4 separate regions of the Homo sapiens genome follow, and all the other regions are linked to region 4. The links come from fine-mapping of genetic effects on gene expression. A gene starts in region 4. Each other region holds a variant in brackets. All regions are shown on one strand. Distances are from middle to middle.

What was found. PIP is the estimated chance that this variant, and not a neighbour inherited with it, causes the effect. A credible set is the group of variants that fine-mapping cannot tell apart.
Region 1: its variant is the best candidate, but not a certain one, in a credible set for the expression of ADARB2 in lung (TOPMed, PIP 0.66).
Region 2: its variant is the best candidate, but not a certain one, in a credible set for the expression of ADARB2 in prefrontal cortex (GTEx, PIP 0.85).
Region 3: its variant is the best candidate, but not a certain one, in a credible set for the expression of ADARB2 in spinal cord (GTEx, PIP 0.78).

The regions. Positions count from the first base shown.
Region 1 is chr10:1,617,310-1,622,463 of GRCh38, reverse strand. The region is part of intron 1 of ADARB2 (adenosine deaminase RNA specific B2 (inactive)); the gene reads left to right. Among named protein-coding and RNA genes, the nearest start is that of ADARB2-AS1, 93 kb to the right of the region's middle. The variant T/C (reference allele first, on the strand shown) is at 3,032.
Region 2 is chr10:1,240,516-1,245,629 of GRCh38, reverse strand. ADARB2 (adenosine deaminase RNA specific B2 (inactive)) reads left to right here. Exons shown (of 10, transcript NM_018702.4): 5 at 3,331-3,499. Among named protein-coding and RNA genes, the nearest start is that of LINC00200, 83 kb to the right of the region's middle. RefSeq lists enhancers at 2,998-3,508, 3,509-4,020. The variant T/C (reference allele first, on the strand shown) is at 3,021.
Region 3 is chr10:1,203,366-1,208,519 of GRCh38, reverse strand. The region is part of intron 7 of ADARB2 (adenosine deaminase RNA specific B2 (inactive)); the gene reads left to right. Among named protein-coding and RNA genes, the nearest start is that of LINC00200, 46 kb to the right of the region's middle. The variant G/A (reference allele first, on the strand shown) is at 2,236.
Region 4 is chr10:1,734,679-1,739,832 of GRCh38, reverse strand. ADARB2 (adenosine deaminase RNA specific B2 (inactive)) reads left to right here and starts at 2,308. Exons shown (of 10, transcript NM_018702.4): 1 at 2,308-2,782. The coding sequence starts at 2,683. RefSeq lists a silencer at 2,359-2,418 and an enhancer at 2,380-2,976.

The DNA of each region.
Region 1 (5,154 bases), 120 kb after region 4:
ATATTCTAGATAAAAGTTCTTTATCAGATATATAACTTGCAAATATTTTCAACCTGTATAAGATTTATTTTTTCATTAAAGATGTGTTTTGAAGCTCAAAGTTTTAAAAGTTGATGAAGTCCAACTTTTTGATATTTCCTTAATGAATTGTGCCTTTTATGTTGTGTCTAAGAATTATTTGCCAAATTCAAGCTAATAAAGATTTTTTCCTGTTTTCTTCTAGGAGTTTTAAAATTTTAGCTAGGGTCTTTAGGTCTGTGGTTCATTGTGCGTTTTGTGTATAGTGTAAGGTAATGGTGTATATTCATTTCTTTGAATGTGAGTATACAGTAGAACCAGAACCATTTCTTGAAAAGAGTATCCTTTCCCCATTGAAATTTCTTAGTACCTTTGGAGGAATTAGTTGCCCATGGATGTAAGCATTAATTCATGAACCCTCAACTCTGTTCAATTTATCTAGATTACCTTACCTTGGTAGTAAATTTTGAAATCAGCTAGTATAAGTTTTCCAACCTTTTTCTTTCTTTATTTTTTTGCAAAATTGTTTTTTACTATTAGATCCTTTGCATTTTATTTTCATACATATTTTAAGAGGAGCTTGACATTCTCTACAAAAAAAATCCTGGGATTTGAGATTTGGCAGAGATTGCATTGAATCCATGGATAATTTGGGATGAATTGTTATCTTGACATCTTGACATTACTGAGTCTTTAAATCCAGAAACATGGAATTTCTCCCTATTTACTTAGGTCTCCTTTGATTTCTTTCAGTAATGTTTTGTAGTTTTCAGTACACAAGTCTTGCATTTCACTGTTGTTGTTGTTGCTGTTAAGTGTGTTCCTAACACAGTGAAAACTCATCTCTACAAGTAATACAAAAACTAGCTGGATGTGGTGGCATGTGCCTGCTGTCCCAGCAATTCCAGAGGCTGAGGCAGGAGAACCACTCGAGCCTGGGAGGCCGAGGCTGCAGTGAGCTGTGATCATGCCACTGCTCTCCAGCCCAAGTGGCAGAGTGAGACCCTGTCTCAAAAAAAAAAAAAGAAAGAAAGAAAAAGAAAAAGAAGAAACTATTCCTAGTTATTTATTTTTGAGGCTCTTGTAAATGTAACAATGTTCTTGTTTTTCTTTTCAGATTGTTAGTAATATATAAAAAGACGATTGATATGTTTATACTAATCATATGTCCTGCAATCTTGCTAAAATACCTACTAGTTCTAATATATTTTTTGTTGATTCTATCAGATTTTCTACATAGATGTTCATGTCATCTACAAATGAATACATTTTAATATTTCCTATGCTGGATGCCTTGAATGATTGGCATGTTTGTTTATTTTGTTTGTTTTGTTCTCATACTTGCAAGGACCAGCAGTATACTGTTGAATTCAAGTGTGAAAGTAGACATCCTTCCCTTGTCCCTGATCTACAGGAAAGCACTCAGCCACTCATGACTAAGGATGGAGCTGGGCATGAGTGATTCATATATGCCCTTTTATAGCTTGCAGAAGTTCCATTGTACTCAGAGTTGTTAAGGGAGTTTGTCATGAATGAGTACTGGATTTTTCCAATACTTTTTTCTGCATGTATTGTGATAATCAGGTGTCTGATCTTTATTTGATTAATATAGTATATTACACTAGGTGATTTTTACATTTTAGGCCAACTTTTCACTGTAGGCGTAAATCTAACTTGGTCTTTACATACACCCTTTTCATATGGTGCTTGATTCAGTTAGGTGATGTTGTGTTAATAGTTTCACATCCATATTCATAAGAAATCTTGGGCTATACTTTTTGTGATATTTTTGTGCTTGCTATCAATATAATATTAGAACAACTGAATGAATGGAGAGTCGTCTCCCCTTCTGCATTTTCTAGAACAGTTTGTAAAAGATTGTTAGTATTTTTTCTTTATTTAACAAATTCACCAGTGACACCATTTGGGCCTGGGCCTTTTCTTGTGTAAAGGGATCTCTAATTGTTAGTTTAATTTTCTTAATTGTTATTTTTGTAGTTTTTTTATTTCCTCTTTAGTCATTTTTGGAAATCTGCGCATTTCCAGTAATTTCCCCCATCTCATCTAAGTTGCCTCATTTGGGCCATAAAGTTGCCCATAACATGTGCTTATGACCCCTTTAATTTTTGTAGATTGGTGATAATGTTTCTTCTTTCATTTCTAATTTTCATAATTTGTGTCTTCTGTCTTTTATTACTGGTCGGTCAATCTAAATATGTCAATTTGTTGATTTTTTTGGTTTTCTATTTCATGGATTTTTGCTCTAATCTTTATTATGTCTTACTTTGATTTTAGTTTGCTCTTATTTTTCTACTATATTCACATGGAAGCTTAGAATATTGATTTGAGATCTTCCTTTCTTTCTGATATAGGTGTTTAAAGCTATAAATTTCCCTCTACTGTCTTAGTTGCACCCCATAAATTTTAATATAATTTTGTTTTAGTGCAGTTAAATTTTTTTCTTATTTTTCTTGTTTTTCCTTTATTGATCCATGGGTTATTTAGAAGTATATTGTTTAATTTCTAAATATTTGCAGATTTTCCAGATTTCTTTCTGTTGTTCAATTCTGATTTACTTTCATTGTGGTCAAAAACATCATTATATGATGCCAGTTCTATTAAATGTATTGATTTTTTTTCTAATCTAGCATATTATCTATTCGTAAAATGTTTCTTGTCCTTAAAAACAATATGTGGGCAGGGAATGGTGGCTCATGCCTGTAATCCCAGCACTTTGGGAGGCCAATATGGGCAGATCTCTAGGTCAAGATATTGAGACCCTCCTGGCCAACATGGTGAAACCCCATCTCTACTAAAAATATAAAAATTAGCTGGGCATGGTGGCATACCCCTGTAATCCCAGCTACTTGGGAGGCTGAGACAGGAGAATTGCTTGAACCTGGGAGGTGGAGGTTGCAGTGAGCCAAGATCGCACCACTGCACTCCAGCCTGGTGACAGAGCGAGACTCTGAAAAAACAAAAATACATGTTCTGCAGTTATTACATGAAGTGC[T/C]TATTTTTGTTAAATAGATTGAGTTGATTAATACTGTCATTTAATTTTCCACCTAATTGTTCTATCAATAAATAATACAGCAAATGTAGTTTTTTTAGAGTCATTGTATGGTGCGTATTTTTTCTTTTTTTTTTTTTTTTTTTACTTTCAATGTATTTGTGTCTTTGATTCTAAAATGTATCTTGTAGACAGCATGTAGCTAAATCTTACTTATTTATCTAATCTGATGATCTCTGCTCTTTTTATTTGGGTGTTTAGACCATTCATATTTAATGCAACTAATGATATGGCTGGATTTACATTTACCATTTTGCAATTTATTTTCCACATGTCTCTCGCCTTCTCAATCTCTTCCTGAATAACTGAGTGTATCACTTTAACTCCTCTGTTGATTATTTTACACCATTCATTCCTCCAAGCCAGGTGATCCATTAATTGCAGCCAAGAAGCTACAGTTCCTTCGCAGCCTGCCTTAATCTGACAGAACTTCTACAAGCTGCAGGGGGCAGGGGTTTCAGCTGTATAGTTGCTTTTGGAGGAGAGGGTTTAATTTTCTCTTCAAATGGCCATTGCTGGAAATCTCGCCTGTGATTTGTTTTTAGTGGCTTTAATGTTTTTGTTGTTGAGCCTGCCACAATGATCTCTCCAACAAAACAATACTCTTTTATTTGTATTTAATTCATTGAGAAACTGTCGATTACCACGTCACAGATTTTTAACTACCTCAAACTTGCTAGGTGGCACCACTTAAGATCTGACTTTTGGGAGCCTGAGAGGGGAGCATCACCTGAGCCCCAGGGATGGAGGTTGCAGTCAGCCAATATTGGGCCACTGCACTCCAGCATATGTGAAGTGCAAGACCCTCTCTCAAAAAAAAATCTGATTTTTAAACCTAGTGACACTGTACTTGAACAAAAAAAATGACTTGTTGAAAGTAAAAATTACTTTTGCAAATTATTATGAAGTGTCTTATGGTTGAATAATCAGAATTTTCTATAGGTATGTGAATTTTCAGGGTTGGTAGAATCTTCTCATTCATCTTAAGTTTGAAGCATTATTGGACTTATTAAAAAGGTGATAAGCTATACATACTTTTACAATATCCACTAAACAGTTATAATTTGGGGTTGTTGAATGGCAGTAAAGAGGTTATAGTCATGGTGGTGGATTTTTTAAAGTAAAGCTGGACTTATAGGATCTTAAATAAGAAAAGTTCATAAACAAGCCTGCTCTTCTAATTTACAGAGCAATTCTGTGACTCACCTAAAGGCATTCTGTTAGAGTAAAGGCTGGAACTTAGGTACACCTGTTTGGGCAGGCAGCAGATGGCACACTCAGAGGGTTAAGTAAGAAATTTAATAAAGGAAGTCGTCTTAAAGGTGCAGAGAATGTCACAGAAACTAAAGGGCATGATGAAGCTCCCGGGGAGATGCAGCCTTAGGGGAAAAAAGTGGACAGCAATTCACTGAACTCAGGGAAATCTGTAGTTGGAGGGGAAGAGCCGTCCAACAAAAGTTTTGAGCTTAAGAGAAACACAGCAACTGTCAAACAGACTGGAAGGAAAACTAACCCTTGAGCCTCCCTCCCTATCACTGAAACCAACAGAATGCAAAACCCTCTGAGGCCAGTTCCCAGGATGCAGAGCTCAGCAGGGTGGTGTGGAGTGTGTCTGCACAGGCAAACAAACATCTAGCGACAGAATGCAACCCTCTGAGGCCAGTTCCCAGGATGCAGAGCACAGCAGGGCGGTGTGGAGTGTGTCTGGACGGGCACACAAACATCTAGCAACAGAATGCAGCCCTCTGACGCCAGTTCCCAGGATGCAGAGCTCAGCAGGGCAGTGCAGAGTGTGTCTGGAGAGGCACACAAACATCTAGCGACAGAATGTAACCCTCTGAGGTCAGTTCCCAGGAGGCAGAGCACAGCAGGGCGGTGTGGAGTGTGTCTGGACGGGCACACAAACATCTAGCGACAGAATGCAACCCTCTGAGGTCAGTTCCCATGAGGCAGAGCTCAGCAGGGTGGTGCGGAGTGTGTCTGGACGGGCACACAAACATCTAGCGACAGAATGCAGCCCTCTGAGGCCGGTTCCCAGGATGCAGAGCTCAGCAGGGCGGTGTGGA
Region 2 (5,114 bases), 490 kb after region 4:
ACCATCATTCTCAGCAAACTATCACAAGGACAAAAAACCAAACACCGCATGTCCTCACTCATAGGTGGGAATTGAAGAATGAGAACACATGCACACAGGAAGGGGAACATCACACACCGGGGCCTGTTGTGGGGTGGGGGGAGGGGGGAGGAATAGCATTAGGAGATATACCTAATGTTAAATGACAAGTTAACAGGTGCAGCACACCAACATGGCACATGTATACATATGTAACTAACCTGCACGTTGTGCACATGTGCACCCTAAAACTTAAAGTATAATAAAAAAGAAAAAGAAAAAACAAAAAATAAGTAAATAAATAAAAATCTTCCTATTTCTCATTTGTAATGTGTGGTACTCAAGCACATTTTCTGGCTTCTTCCTCTCCCTCATCTTCTGTGTAAATTTCCCAAATCCTGTGGATTCGGTCCTTGCTGTGCTCTCTGGGTCCCTCCCACCAATCCACTCCTGAGGGTGCTTCCTAAGTCCTCATGCACCATGTCCAGCCCCAGCCTCCCACCCAGTGTCCTGGCCCCTTCTCTCCTCCTGTGCAACCCAGCACTCACTCATGGGCAACAGTACTGCTGTCCTTCCGGAAAACCCTTTCACAGCTCCCATTGTCTATTGGTGAAGAGCTAGATCTTCAGGGTGGTACTCAAGGCGTCTGTGACTGATTTCCACCCACCTTTGAAGCTTCGCCACTTTCCCACACACATCTCCTACGGGCTCCAACGGCCCGTAGAATACGCAGATTATGCAGAATATGCCTGTGCCCTTTCCTATCCGTGCCTCTGACCACCATGCCCACTCTGCCTAGGACGCCTCCTCCTGCCACCTGTGCAGAAGCTCCCTGGGTGTGAGTCCGTCTCTCCCTTTTCCTCCCTCACTGTCATGCTGGTGACATTCCATGTACAGCACTTCCGCGACATTTCTCATACGACATCTCATGCTGCAGCCGTTTCTGACCGCGTCATCTCCCTCGGTCCAGGCTTCGCGTCTCCTGTGTTGGGAACGTGGTGCTGGCGGTGGGGGTGAGAATCATGAAAACTGAATATGCAAACACTTCTTGGGCCACGTAATTGTGCTGAGTGTGGCAGAGTCTGGAGCCAAACGGAGCTGGGAATCAATGAGGGGTAAAGGGAAAGCAGTTGCTTTTTTCTACAGCTCCAATTTCCACGGAATCCAAAGAGAAGGAGCAGGCCGGGGCCTCACAGGCCACAGCACCTATTCCTGAAGAGCTGTCCGTTTCCACCAGAGACTGCATGCGCACCGGTCGTGAACACTGAAACTGGTTAGGAATCGTTATCAATGTGTTTCCCATTTCTCTAAATACCAGCTTTAACGAAGCTGGAACCTGAGGGGTGGTTTCTGCATCACGATGTCATCCTTGTGAACCATTTCTCAACAGTCCACATGTCACTGACGGCCTGAGTGAGATGGTGGCTCCCACCCCTGGCAGAGTCAGTAGCAGCTGCCCACCCCAGCTCCCTGTAGCCTTAGATCCTGGTCCCATCTGCTCGTCAACTTCTGGGACCCCCGCTAGGGGGCAGCCCCCGCACCCAGGATGGCTGAGAGAGGAGGAGGCCTGGACCTGGAACCCGGCAGCTGCTCACGAGCTTTCCTGGGGGAGGAACCTCAGGGCGGCTGGTCGTGTCCTGTTCTGATTAAAGCGGCGTGGGGAAGTCTGGTCACTTCCTGAGCTCAGGAGCAGTCCCGTCCCACCAGGGAGGGGGCAGTGGGTAGACAACAGGACCAGGACCATGGAGTTCTCTTCGGGCACAGAAACGGGGGCTGCTGGGAGAAGCTGGGATGAGCGGAGAGAGCAGTGGACATGGGCAGGAGGCGGGGGCTGTGCTAGACCGCTTTGCCTGGAAGGAAGGAGGCTGGACAGACAGACCCCAGCTGCAGAGCCATGGGGGCAAGGATGCTGCTGGGCCTCTGCAGGTTACTTCCCCAGTGCTCGGTCCCTCCCGGCCCCGAATTCTCCCTGGCTGTCACTGGTAGCTGCTGACACCACCCTTTTATCTCACGAAGAAAGATCCCACGGTGAGGCCCAGAGAGGGCAGATGCCCTCAGGGCTCAAGAACTAAGTTCTCAGGGGAGAAAAAGTCACATCAGAGGAACAAGTGTGTGAGAAGCGAGAAGCGCTCATGACCAGCCAGCACTGTTTTTATTTAAGATGGGAGGGAAGCCTGCTTCTGGCGTGACATTAATTAGTCGATTTTATTTAAGATGGGAGGGAGGCCTGCTTCTGGCGTGACATTAATTTGTGTGTCACCTCTTCCAAGAAATGGTCCGGACGTGTATTTACAGGTAACTCTGTGGACGTGGCCGCGGTCAGCGGCTAACGCGTCTCCGTGCTGCCCTCCCTTGGCCTGCGATCCGGGCCCAGCCAGTGGCTGTCACATCCCAAGGCTCCTGGGCACCCGCAACATTCCTGCCACCTCCAGCCGAAGGGCCTGGATGATGGATTTGTTATTGGATCGGCAACACTGACCCGTCTAATGACACGGACTCCCTAGGGAGCCCTTGCTTGGAGTATTTGGTGGAAATTCTGACTCGTGTCCTCAAGGAATTCACCATCTAAGTGCAGAGAAAATACACATCCACACAGACCTGTTAGAGCACAGCAAACATTGGCTTGTGTCTTCCAGCTTCTCCTCCTTAAACAAAGTGATGAATATTATACTTTAAGGACATTACGTTGGGGGTTGTTTTTGAGGTTTCTTTGTTGTTTGTTTTCAGTCCCTGAAGAGAGTATCATTTTTGTGGATGGGGTTCCTTTGACTATGGTTAAAATGACACATCCAGCCTCCTTTCTGTGTTAGTATGACAGGTTCATCAGCTCCTGTCCTGTGTTTCTGTGTTAGGGTGAAGGGTTCATCAGCTCCTGTCCTGCCCTGATCCCGTTGGAGGACAGGAGAAAGCACAAAGGTGGTTAGAGGTTGGGCAGGAAGCCCAGGCCGCAGCTAGCACTGCTCCCACTCACAGGGGACCTGGGACTCAGGTGGAGAAAACTG[T/C]CCTGGTAGTAAGTTTGACCTCAAAACTCTGCTCCTATGGTGCCTAAGGAGCATTTCAGCAACCTTAAGGATAGCAGAGGCACTCTGAGCGCTGTCTCAGGCCACCATGAAGTAGATGGGAATCCCTCAGGCGGGCGGTCACCCGTGACAGCCTGGAGCACACAGAAGCCTCGCTTCCCAGCTCTCAAAACGCAGTGTTTCCAAGGTTTCCTAACCCAGGGAAACCGCTGTTGTGAGACCCTGAAAAGACCGAGGAGGAGGGAGACGGGGGCCGTGGGCCACGCTGCTCTGATGCTATCTGTGTCCCCAGGCCTGGATGCTCGGCAGGCGCAGGTCGTGGCCCTGTCCTCGGGGACCAAGTGCATCAGCGGCGAGCACCTCAGTGACCAGGGGCTGGTGGTGAATGACTGCCACGCGGAGGTCGTGGCCCGGCGGGCGTTCCTGCACTTCCTCTACACGCAGCTGGAGCTGCACCTGAGGTGAGCGGCTGGGGACGGGCTCCAGGGAAGGCGGACGCCGCGGCTGGGGGCTGCCAGGGAGCAGATGGGGCCCCATGCCTGGCTCAGAACACGCTTCCCTCTATCCTGGCACAGGGTGAGCCAGAAAGCATCCCTTTTTATTCAGACTAGAGACATCCCTGGCACACCAATAAAGCCGCCGTGTGCGCTGGGAAGATGCTAAAATTCCAGGCTTCCTCCTTACTCCACGTTTCCCTCCAGAAAACACCTTTGCAGCCCTCGTCCTTCCGGGCAAGGCCACCCTCTCCTGGCCTCGGTTCCCCATGCCCCCCACATTCCTGCACTGCCCCCTTTTCCGCCGTTGCCCTCAGAGAACGTGAGTGCAGTGCCCAAGGGGTGGCTTGGAGACGCGCTGTCTTCTTGCCTCCTGTGCCAAGTACATGTGAAGAGGCCGCTGAGGCCTTGAGAACTGTGCCCCAGTATTGGGATTCCCAGGGTTCCCTGGCCTGCTCTGGCCATCAGGCATTGGTGGCTGTCATGGGGCAGCCTCCTGTCCCTGAGACACTTTAGAGAGGAGCAAAACCCAGGTGGTTTGCAGCACGTGGCCTCCGCGACACACCCCCAGGCTGGGCCATTCAGTCCCAAGGGCTCACTGTGGGCTCCTCTCCTGAAACGCTCCCTCCTGTGTCTGCTGTCTACTCTTTCACATCCCTTGAAGCCATCTGCGTTCCTCAAATCTACGAGTAATGGGACCTTGGGGGGCTTTGGCAAGGGTCATCTCCATGCCCATTAGCTGTGCAAAAGCCACACAAAAGGAGAAAGGCCCACGTGTAGCCCTAAGCAGACGCTGCTGAAAACAACACCTTAACACACTCAGCTCATTCTTTTTTTTTGAGATGGAGTCTTGCTCTGTCGCCCAGGCTGGAGTGCAATGGCATTATCTTGGCCCACTGCAACCTCTGCCTCCCGGGTTGAAGCAATTCTCCCACCTCAACCTCCTGAGTAGCTGGGTCTACAGGCGTTCACCACCACGCCTGGCTAATTTTTGTATTTTTAGTAGAGACGGGGTTTCATCACGTTGTCAAACTCCTAACCTCAAGTGGTCACCCTATCTCGGCCTCCCAAAGTGCTGAGATTACAGGCATGAGCCACTGTGCTCAGCCCACACTCAGCTCATTCTTATCTGAGCCTCTGAGCAGGGAGCCACAGGTTGAACCCATCCCTCAGTTCCCTGAGGCCTGCGGGGTGCAGCAGGAGTTGGATATGGGGGAACAGAAATATCTCAGAATGTAGGGAAGGATTTCTCCTAAATGTCCACCTGCTCAACTGGGACTATCACCAAGATCCCTCACTCTTGTTTGTGTCAGAGAAGGCAACTGGACCAATATTTACCAGGAGCTGGTTACATGCTTGGTGCTGTGCCACCAGCTGGGGGGGTCCACAGACAGGTGCACCCGACGCCTGCCCTGCATGGGGAACCAGCACAGGGGAGGGGGAGTCCAGGGCAGCCACGTGGCTGACAGGCCCTGTGCCGGGGCCCAGGCTTGGGATACATTTGCCAAGGGTCCTGGGGGAGGCAGCCGGGGCAGTGGGGGATGGTGGCTGTGGGCAGAGTGCAGGCACAGAGGCAGGAAGA
Region 3 (5,154 bases), 530 kb after region 4:
ATGGGAGGCAGGGACAGAGCCCAGCATGGGGCCCGGCTGCCTGCACCTGAGTGCTGGGGCCAGGGACAGACACACCCAGGTGTCCTTGGCCTCCTCTGTGACCTCAGAGCCAGTGGGTGCTTGGAGGACAGGGACCCCGGGGGGTGGCACCAGCCACACGCACCCAGGGAAAGCACGACCCTGCAGACACCTTTTCAGACTCTGGCCTCCAGAACTGGGGGAACATCCCTGTTTCAAGCCACCCCACTGTGGTTGTCCCACAGCAGCCCTAGGAGGCTGGCACTGGCAGGTGAGAGAAATCACCTATCCGGTCTTCAGGAAATCAGAGAACAGATAAAGTCACAGTAAACTCGATTCCTAAAATCCTACCACCACCATAGCCCTGGGAAGATGGGATGGAACTGCAGAAAGTGGTAGTCACAGGTCAATAAGAATTGACCTGCAAAGCCACAAGGTAAGGTTAGGAGTGCCCTGGAGACCAAACCCTGCCCCTGCATGGGAAGAGGGTCGGACACCGCAGGCCTAACAGTCCCATCCTGAAGGCCTGTGGACGCGGCCTGTTTTTCCAGCTCTATGGAGCCAGGCTAGACTCTCACCAACAGCCAAACCCCAGGCTCCTAAAAGAATGAGGAAAACTGCAGAGGTGCTTTTAGCTTTTGTCTCTAAGATTAATCAAACATTGAGCGGCATATAAAAAATCTAAATCTCCTGGAACTAATGTTCCTTCAGATATGGTTTCTAATTTTAAGTACCTGAGCTTGATTATTGATCACAATGTGTCTTTAAATGAACAGATTAAAACTTTCTCCATGAAAATGAACCATAAGAAATTACAGCTGCTCTCTGGGGAATACGGCACTGGCTGATTTCTAAACCTAAATTTTAGCCTGTGCAGAGTGCCGTCTCCCCCCACCTAGAGATCAGCTGCTCAATGTTCCCTCAACAACAGCTTCTCGTGCCTCCTCTTGGCCACGCAGCCCACCTGGGAACAATTCTGACGCCTTCCTCCATGATTTGTTGACTCCACTGAGGTCAAATGAGTGATGTTCATTGTTCTAATCTCAGAGTGTAGGTCCTTCCTAACAGAACTGCTTTTAAACACCGAACCCCAAGTTCCCCCAGTCTGGTTTAAAAATATTTTTACTCCTTTTAAAAGAGTAAAATTGTACAGATTGAGATGAAGTCTTGCTCTTGTCACCCAGGCTAGAGTGCATGGCGTGATCCCGGCTCACTGCAGCCTCTGCCTCCCAGGTTCAAGCAATTCTCTGCCTTAGCCTCCCGAGTAGCTGGGATTACAGGCGTACACCACCATTCCCGGCTAATTTTTGTATTTTTAGTAGAGACAGGGTTTCGCCACGTTGGCCAGGCTGGTCTCAAACTCCTGACCTCAAGTGATCCACCCGCCTCAGCCTCCCAAAGTGCTGGGATTACAGGGGTGAGCCACCGCGCCCGGCCTTAAGTGACATAACACCTCTAGTGAGGAAAGAAGCAGTGATCAATTCACTAACACTTATCAAATATAAAAAGTAATAATGAAACAATCAGCAGCCCCGCTGCCTTCGCGGCTCTGCCCTCCTGCACCAGCACCACCGACCTCGGCCACAGCTCCTGAGACCAGAGCCCAGTTCCTGGGGGGACCCGGCCCAGATGCTGTGGAGACGGCAGAGGGTGACAAGCGCACCATCTGCAAGGTAAGAACTGGAACTCCAGTCAGGAGGACAAGAGAAAACACGAGGCCGGGCTGAGTGGGGACCTGGGATGCTCAGCAACGACGCAGACAGTGTGGACGCCACCAACCCAATACAGAGACGCAGAGACGGAGGCGCAGGGCTGAGGTACCTGAGTCACAAGGCGTCATCTCATGGGCGCCATCTTCACAGAAAGAACCAAAGGTCCCCGGGCTGAGTGAAAAGTGTCCTCTGTCCCCAGAACCAAGAGGCCCACAAGGGGCCACCGCAGTTCTCTCAGACCGCACAGGCACGAGGAGGAGACCCCGCAGTTCTCTCAGACCACACAGGCACGAGGAGGAGACCCCGCAGTTCTCTCAGACGCACAGGCACGAGGAGGAGACGCCCCAGTTGGAGGAGACGCCCCAGTTCTCTCAGACCACACAGGCACGAGGAGGAGACGTCCCAGTTCAAGGAGACGCCCCAGTTCTCTCAGACGCACAGGCACAAGGAGGAGACGCCGCATGTCCCAGAAACCATCCTCCCAGTGGGAGAGCGTGGCCCCCGC[G/A]CAGGTAGCCGGCTTAAGGAGGAATCGTTAGGACCCGGGAATGGAGAGACGCACCTGGGGATCATCCTCTTCACTCTCGTGCGAAGGAATTTTACATTTTACCAGCGTGTTGCAGGGTAGACTTGGCCAGAGAAATATCAAGAGAAAGGGAGTTTTTGAGACGGGTTTTTCAGAAGAGAAATGAGATATGTGTGGCCTGGAAGTAATTTACTGAAAATAATCGGAAGCGGCTGAATATCCCACCCACCCCACCTGAGCCCAGCTGCCCCGTGAACCACCTGACCCCAGCGGGCTGCCCCGTGACACCCACCTGACCCCAACGGGCTGCCCCGTGACCCCACCTGACCCCAGCGGGCTGCCCCGTGACCTCCACCTGACCCCAGTGGGCTGCCCCATGACCCCACCTGGCCGCAGCGGGCTGCCCCATGCCCCCAGATGTCTCACGTCCCAAACGTCAGCAGTCAGGATGGCATCTACCCAGTCTCGGTCCATCCCGGCCACCACGCAGAACACGCTGGCCCACGACAGGAATCCGCTCCTCTTGGCGCTGGAGGCTGGAAGCCAAGGTCTCTGCTCCAGCAGTTTCCGCGTCTGGTGAGGCTGTGCTTCCCAGGTGGTAACGGCACCCTGTGCCGCGTCCTCCCATGGTGGAAGGGGCTGGGGAGCACTCTGGGAGGTGAGGATTCCATGTGAATTTTTGGGAACACAAGCATTCGGACCGCAGAGCCTGGGGGTGTGCACTGGGCTCCCTTCCCCTTGGCCTGACCTGTGTGAGCTCCTGGGGAAGCTGTGGGCAACCCAGAGACCCCTCAGGCTGTGCCACGGGCTCCCGTGAGTTGTCTCCCTCAGGCTGTGCCACGGGCTCCAGTGAGTTGTCTCCCTCAGGCTGTGCCACGGGCTCCCGTGAGTTGTCTCCCTCAGGCTGTGCCACGGGCTCCAGTGAGTTGTCTCCTGCTGTGAAGCAAAGCACCTCAGAACCCTAGGGCCACCTAAAACCTGTTGTTTTAGGTGGCCCTAAAACAACAAGGCCCTCGTGTACTCCCAAGCCCTCCCTTTGAGCTCGGGGGTTGGCTCACTTCATCTCCACGTGGCGCCAGCCGAGGCAGCCCCCGGGCAGCAGGGACCCCTTTCCTGGCAGATCAGCTGGGGCGGTTGGAGGCCCTGGATCCACTTCACGGACTCAGGAGTCTCTGCAGAATGGCGGCCGGGACCTAAGGGAGAACCCAGGAGGTCAGGGGACCCAGTCCCAGGTGGCATCATCCCAGCACCTCAGGCTGAGGCATCCCAAGCTGCAGAGGCTCAAGGCAGGTGCAGGCCCACCCTGTGGATGTCACAGTCACGTTGAGGAAATGCCTGTTGGGTGGGGTCACTGAGAGCCTAGCTGGTTTGTTTCCACCTTTGAACACAACACAGCTGCTGGCGAAGGGACGAACTGTCCATCAGCTTCCTCCTACGCATCAGTCACCTCCATCTGCACACCAGACCCGTGCTCAGCAATGCCAGGAGATTTAAACCACAGGCACCTGAGGGCCAGGCAGGGGCAGCCCGGCAGGAGGCAGTCACGATGGTGCTGGACACAGGAGGGGACCTTGGAGGGGACAGCTTGAAAGCCCTGTGGTTTTAGAGCAGTCACAAGCGTCCTACACAATGTGACGGGTGAGGCCGGCAGGAGCCAGTGAGGGGCGGAGCGTCCACGCGACAGAAGGTGCAGGTGGGGCAGCTGTGGCCTCCTGGCCCTGAGGGTGTCCCAGCAAGCCAGGCCCGCTTCAGAGGCACGAGAGCTGTGGGACCCATGGTCAGGCAGGCCAGGGTGTCAATAATGCACCATCATTTATGTAACCAGTTCCCTGTTAAGACGCACTCAGGTGATTTCCCATTTCTGCTTTGCCGTGCTTTGTCTGCTTTGCAATTACAAACAGCCCCTTCAAGACTGGCCCCATCCATATATCAGGCGTTCCATTGAGAATGCAGATGCTGGGTGAATTCCTAGCAGGTGTGTTATTGAGTCAAAAGGCTGTTGGCTTCTATTTCACCTTGAAAGGCCCCCAGAATAGGTCTGAGTGGCCTGGAAATGGGGTGGGGCCTGTATGCAGAGACGTCTCAGACTTATTACCTGTCTTGTCAAAAGGTGGGAGGAAGAAGGTGTGAGACAGGGTTTGGAGGTAGGGTGTGGAGGAAGGGAAATGTCACCCCCAGACTGGCCAGAGATTCAACTGTCCCCTGTGCTCTTCCAATGCCGTGAAAGGTAGATACAGTTACTGTGACCCCAGAACCAACACGGAGACGGTGGTTCTCGAACTGAGCAGCCTCAGAGCCACCTGGAGCCTCCTTAGAACTTGCACTGCCGGGCCTCACCCCAGAGTTCAAGAGCCAGCAGCTCCGGGGTGCAGCCAGGAATCTGCATTTCTATCAACTTCTCAGGTGATGCTCCATGGCTGGCCCAGACATCCCACTTTGAGGTCCACTGAGAAGACAGTCGCTCAGAGCAGCAAGAGAACGGTCAAGGGAGGCCCCACTGACCAGCATCACGACCTAACTGGTACCTGACTGTGTTGGCTCCAAATGTGCCGCTTTGCTGCAGAAGTCTTCAACCCTGGCTCACAGGAGAATCACGTGGGCGGCACCGAGAAAGCTGATGGCCGCACTGACTCCCCAGTCACACCAAAATCCTTGGGGGAGCCAGACCTCTGGAGATCCTCAAAGCTCCCAGATGATCCCAGCAGCAGGCCTGACAGCCAGCCCTGCAGAGCTGCAGACGCCGGGACGGGTGGCAGCTGAGGACTTTGCTGCAGGCTTCATGTAACTTTAGAGAGTTACTTCTCCTCACAGGGCCGCGTCACGGCGGAAAACCAAAGCGTCCAAAACAGGCAAGGGCGGTCCTGTTCCCTGCCTGATGCCGGCGCACCTGCAGGGACAGCC
Region 4 (5,154 bases):
GCAACAGCAGAGTGAGACGTGCTGGAAACCACGCTGGAGTTAACGCACTTGTCGCTGCGAGCCTCTTCTTTAAAGCCCCTCTGTGATGAGAAACAAAGGCTTTCTCGCCTAGCCGTCGCCCTAGCATCATCTATTATGCATCGTCTTATGCAAAATAAATAAAATACAGAAAACAGCAAGTATCTGTGAAAACAGCATTTTCATAAATTATACAAAAAAGAACCAATTGGAGGAACTTCAAGAAAAAGGTTTGCCAAAATTTCGATCGTAACTTTCAAATTAGGGTCTAAATGAAGTGTTCAAAGACAGTTTTCAGTTTTGTTTCCCCACTCCACCAACATCAGAAGAACATTTAACAGACACGTTACTTTCCGGCCACCATACCTGCCCTTGGAGTGAAACAAGGGTTCATGTATACGAGTCTCCCAGACAGCACGGTTGCTCCGTGTGATGATGGAGCTATTGGGGCCATTAATAAATGCTGACCACCTTGTGGGGGCTGTGTGTGTGTGTGAAGCTCTTCTGAAGCACCTTCCTTCGGTGACTCCACCCCCTGATGGGTTTTCTGCAGATACAGAAATAGGGCAACTCTGGATTAGTGCAGCACATTGTGTGAAGCTCAGAAGTTTCACAGGCAGAGTCCTAGAGCTGTGTTTCTCGATATAGTTTAAGCACTCAAATATCTCGGGTATTGCAGAGAGGAAGTGAGAGAGCTATGTGCCTTCTCAACCCTCGCTGGGAATTATCAGCAGAGCTGAGCTGTGCTGTCATGGGAACAGGGTTGTTGAAGCCAGCCCTGAAGAGGGATGTTGGTTTGATTGTGGTCCTCAGTCTGAGTTGGACTAGAAGGTTCAACATTCTAAAAGGAAAACGCAGAAGCCCTGTCTTTCTGAGGCTTGTCTGCAACATACGCTCATTCCTTCCAAATTATTTGCTGGAAAAAATTTAATAAATAATCATAGAGTAATTAACATGTTCCAGTTCCTGTCTATACTGGTTGATACTGATTCAACGAGTATGAATGAACTTATGAGGTGGGTGACGTTGTTATCCCCAGTTTACAGATGAGGAAACTGAGGCACGGTTTAACTTACCCGAGGTCATAGCAGTAGAGTTAAGATTTGAAATCAAATGTCTTACTCTCTCTCATCAATGAAAACTGAGCTACGATCTATCAGCTCAGCACATAACAACACAGGATCATCCTAATTATTTCCAATGTCCCCCAGAGTGATTCTTTTTTCTTATGATAAAAATTATCTGGAAATTTCTAGGCACATAAGCAGCTGAAAAGGTTGCATGTGAGGCAATGAATAGCAGAAATATTTGTGTGCCATTTTTATATCAACATGTTAATGTGTGCTAATGAATTTTAGAGTGGATTTTTTTAAAAACATGACTATTGTAATTAAAAGCTTATGTGATTTAAATACAAGATGCAATGATGATTACCAGATTCTATTCCTCTTTATATTTTACATAAGACTTCCAGGGTTCCATAAGTATAATCTTGAAACATAGGACATTCCTGGAAAAAAAAATTGCTTAAAACTATTTCAGTGTGCAATCCACCTCTTTGTAAATGTTACTTTCTTCCATCCAAATATTACATTTGGCAACAAAACTCTCCGCTGAGAGCTTTCTCTTCCTTTTGTGTCATTGTTCCCTAAATAAAGCAACACATGAAATTCCTGACGGCAAAAATCAGACTCAGATCCCAAAACCTCTGTCTTTATGCAAGATTTATCTTTTGCATTGGAAACGGCCAAGGAATATGAAGAGGGGAAAGAAGAGGCAAACAGACAAGCATGCAGGCTCTGAGGAATAAATGCCCCTCAGGACGCTGTCTCCTGGGGAATTGCAAACCTCAGTCCGTTTCTGAGGAAGTGCGGTCTCTGCATTTCTGAAAGAGGTATTTCCCCCCCTTGACACAAGGAGCATGGTAATGAATTGACTAGTTAAAAACTGTTGGTTGGAAAAACCCGTCCCTGTGTCTTTCTGAGCAGGGCGAGCTGAGCTGTCCGCGAGGCTGCGGCAGGAGGCCTCGTCCTCCCGGGCAGGGTCCCTCCTGGAGGCTCCCCCGGTCTCTCCCAGACGCACCCGCGCCGCGTCCTTGTTCCCCGGGAGCAGCCTCCCTCCAGCCGCCGGTCCTGGGAGCTTCACCGTCCAAACGGGAGCTGAGTTTGCAAGCGGCCAGGCGGCGGTGCGGCTGGTGCTGCTGCTGATGTCAGAGCCAGAAAGCAGTTGTGATTGGATCTAATTAGACGCTGCTGCAGCAAATAGACAAGCTCCCTGCGTGATTGGCTTCAAAGTGGCTGGTGCCAAACAACTAGCAGAGGCGCAAAAGTAGCCTCCCTGCGCTGGGAGCCCAGAGCAGGAGGCAGAGCCCGCGGGAAGCTCGGAGCACTCAGGACGCCGCGCGCCCTTCCCCGCCCTCCCTGACCAGGGAGCAGCTCGCTCCAGGCGCCCAGCCGAGGCCCCCAGCCCAGTGGGAGCAAGTCATAGAGAACAATTCGAGAGACAGAGAGACGGAGCGCGCTTTCCTGCTCAGTCCTGAAAAGTGAGCCGCTCCCGGGTTTGCAACCTCAAGCTTCGCAGCAGCGGCGGCGGCGGCTGCCGGGAAGGAGGCAGGTGCAGGTGCAGGAGGGAGGCGGCTCTGGGCTCCGCGCCTGGGTCTCGGCCATGGCCTCGGTCCTGGGGAGCGGCAGAGGGTCTGGAGGGCTGAGCAGTCAACTCAAATGCAAGTCCAAGAGGAGGAGGAGGCGGAGGTCCAAGCGGAAAGGTAAGGACCGCGTGGCGCGCCGGCCCCTGCCCCCCTTCACCCCCGGCTTCTCCACCCCGGCCTCTCATGGGGTCTCCGGGCTTGTCCGTTGTGAGCAGCTTCACTTTGGGGTGCTGGCGGGATGGCTGCTCCGTGCAGGGCGCTCGGGAGTTCAGATCCCGTGGAAATGTCTGGGGCCTCCTCTTGCCCAGAGGGGACAGTGAGCAGCCACGCTGCGACATGTTTGAGGGACCCGGACGAAGTGGGGCGAGGGCGGCGAGGAGCTCCCCGGGGACCCCGCGCGTCTCCGGGCCCCGCAGTCCCCAGTGGCCGGCCGGGCTGGCACTGCCTTCCACCCTCCGGAGGCCATCTCGTCTCCCAGTGCCAAAGGAATTACCCAAAAACGGGGGAACGAGCCCTCGCGCCAGCTACTCCCATCCAAACTGTCCCGGAGGAAGGGATAGGCGAAGCCCTGCGATCGCCTCTCCAAATTGGCTGGCAGTTTTTACTCAATGTGGTGCCCGTCGATTTGTAAACATTGGGTCGTAAAGAGAACACAGGGCTCGTCCTTGGAGAAATAAGCAGAAATGAATACAGGAAAACAGAAAGAAGCATCATATTTTGTTAGTGGTAGAAAAAAACCGCAAACCAGGAAAGCAGGAAAAGCAGCCGGCTGACAGCGGCCACTGACAAACTCAGCTGTGCCTTGTTACTGATATTCCTGGGGCTGGGCCGCGCTGAAGTTAGTCAATGCTACAGCAAGGGAGGGCTTTCACACTGGGGATTTTGCAAAATTAGCAATCGCTCCAATATGAGAGCAATGCCCCCAGTGCCATCGTAGCCTGTGTGCATGCCAGGAAGAATTAAAAGATTCTTCTCATGCCGACCCTTCTCTCCTAGAGGAACCTGTGTTATTGTCAGTTCCTAGTGAGCCTGCAGGAGAAAGTTCAGTTCTAATCATGATTTGAAATGTGCTGATTTTTTTTAAGTGAGGTAGAAGTATAAAGAACGGTTGGAAAAACACAGCTAGAATTGATCAGCTTTGCCAGTTGTTTGAAAGCAGGAGGCAACGTTAGGTGTGTTTGGGGTTGTCCATCTTTCCTGAAGAATTTTCATCTTTGCATTGGCCTAAGATAAGTTTCTACCAGACCGTTTCCTGTGTGCCCTCGAACCGTCACCAGGTCCTTTATTGCCTCTTCCAATAATAGAAATTATCCAGACAGTCAGCAGGCATAAATGTCAATAGCAAACAGTCATTCATTATGACCGAACGTCAGGACCACTGGGAGGGATTGGCCCCCACAACTTCCTCAAAAGGTTTTGGAGCCTTTGGTTTCAGAAGGGAGGTGATGTTGTGGTTCTCATTTACCTCTCAGCTGCTAAGTGTGCGCTTGCGATTCACTTTGTTGTTTGAAATTATCATTTTGAAACAGACCTGTTAGTGTCCTCCAAAGATAATGCCAACACAAAGTGGCATTGATATTGAGAAAGTCACCGGATTGAATAATGAATATGACTTTTAAAAGAGGAAAAAGGAAGCATCATCTTTACACTTGAAATGTTCACATTTCCCAATATTTTTTGATTAGTCTATTTAAATATTTAGAGTTGAAGAATGTGGAGTAATAGTTCGCAATAATGCATTTTATAAATATAAACAGGAGGAAAGTGTTGCCTTTCTCCAAATTCACTTGCCTTGCCAGGAAGCGTCAGTCATGCTAGCTTAGAAAGTATTCAATTTAGGGGGAAAAAGGAAATCTGGGGAAAGACTTCATTTGCTATAAACTTAACTTTAGCAATTCAAAATAAAACTCCTATAGCAAATATTTCCATACCTTGGTTATTTTGAATATGTCAAGTCCCTTAATTTTCATAGCCAAAAATTGAAGCGGGAAAGGGCATTCAGGTTTTGTACACTGATTTCTGTTACGAAGAGATTTCTGGCGTGCGGGAGAATTTCCCAGGGCACCTGCCGGCAGCTATCTTGATAGGAAAGTCAAATCAAACGGCTAAAGATTCAATTTTTGGGGAAACGTTAACCATGTAGATGTAACTGATCAAATTAAAAGGTAAAGTAACCAGCTAAGAGACACATTAAATAATTATTTGCATTTTCCTGGGAATTGATTACTTCATCTATGATACCTAGTTATTACAGATGCTGATATTTTTTATTTTATAAAAACAATGGTGAGTTTAAATTATGTTCTAATTGTCATGAATCTTAACAACCATAAATGAATAGAATAACCTCAATTTTAAGCTTATCTGATATTAAAACTCTATACTTGCCACAATTTAAAATCCACGTGTGTATGAGAGACTGTTAAGGAATTTAGTGTGGCTCTATTAGGTGCTAACTGAAGACACTGACAGAAGCACAAGGTAAGGGC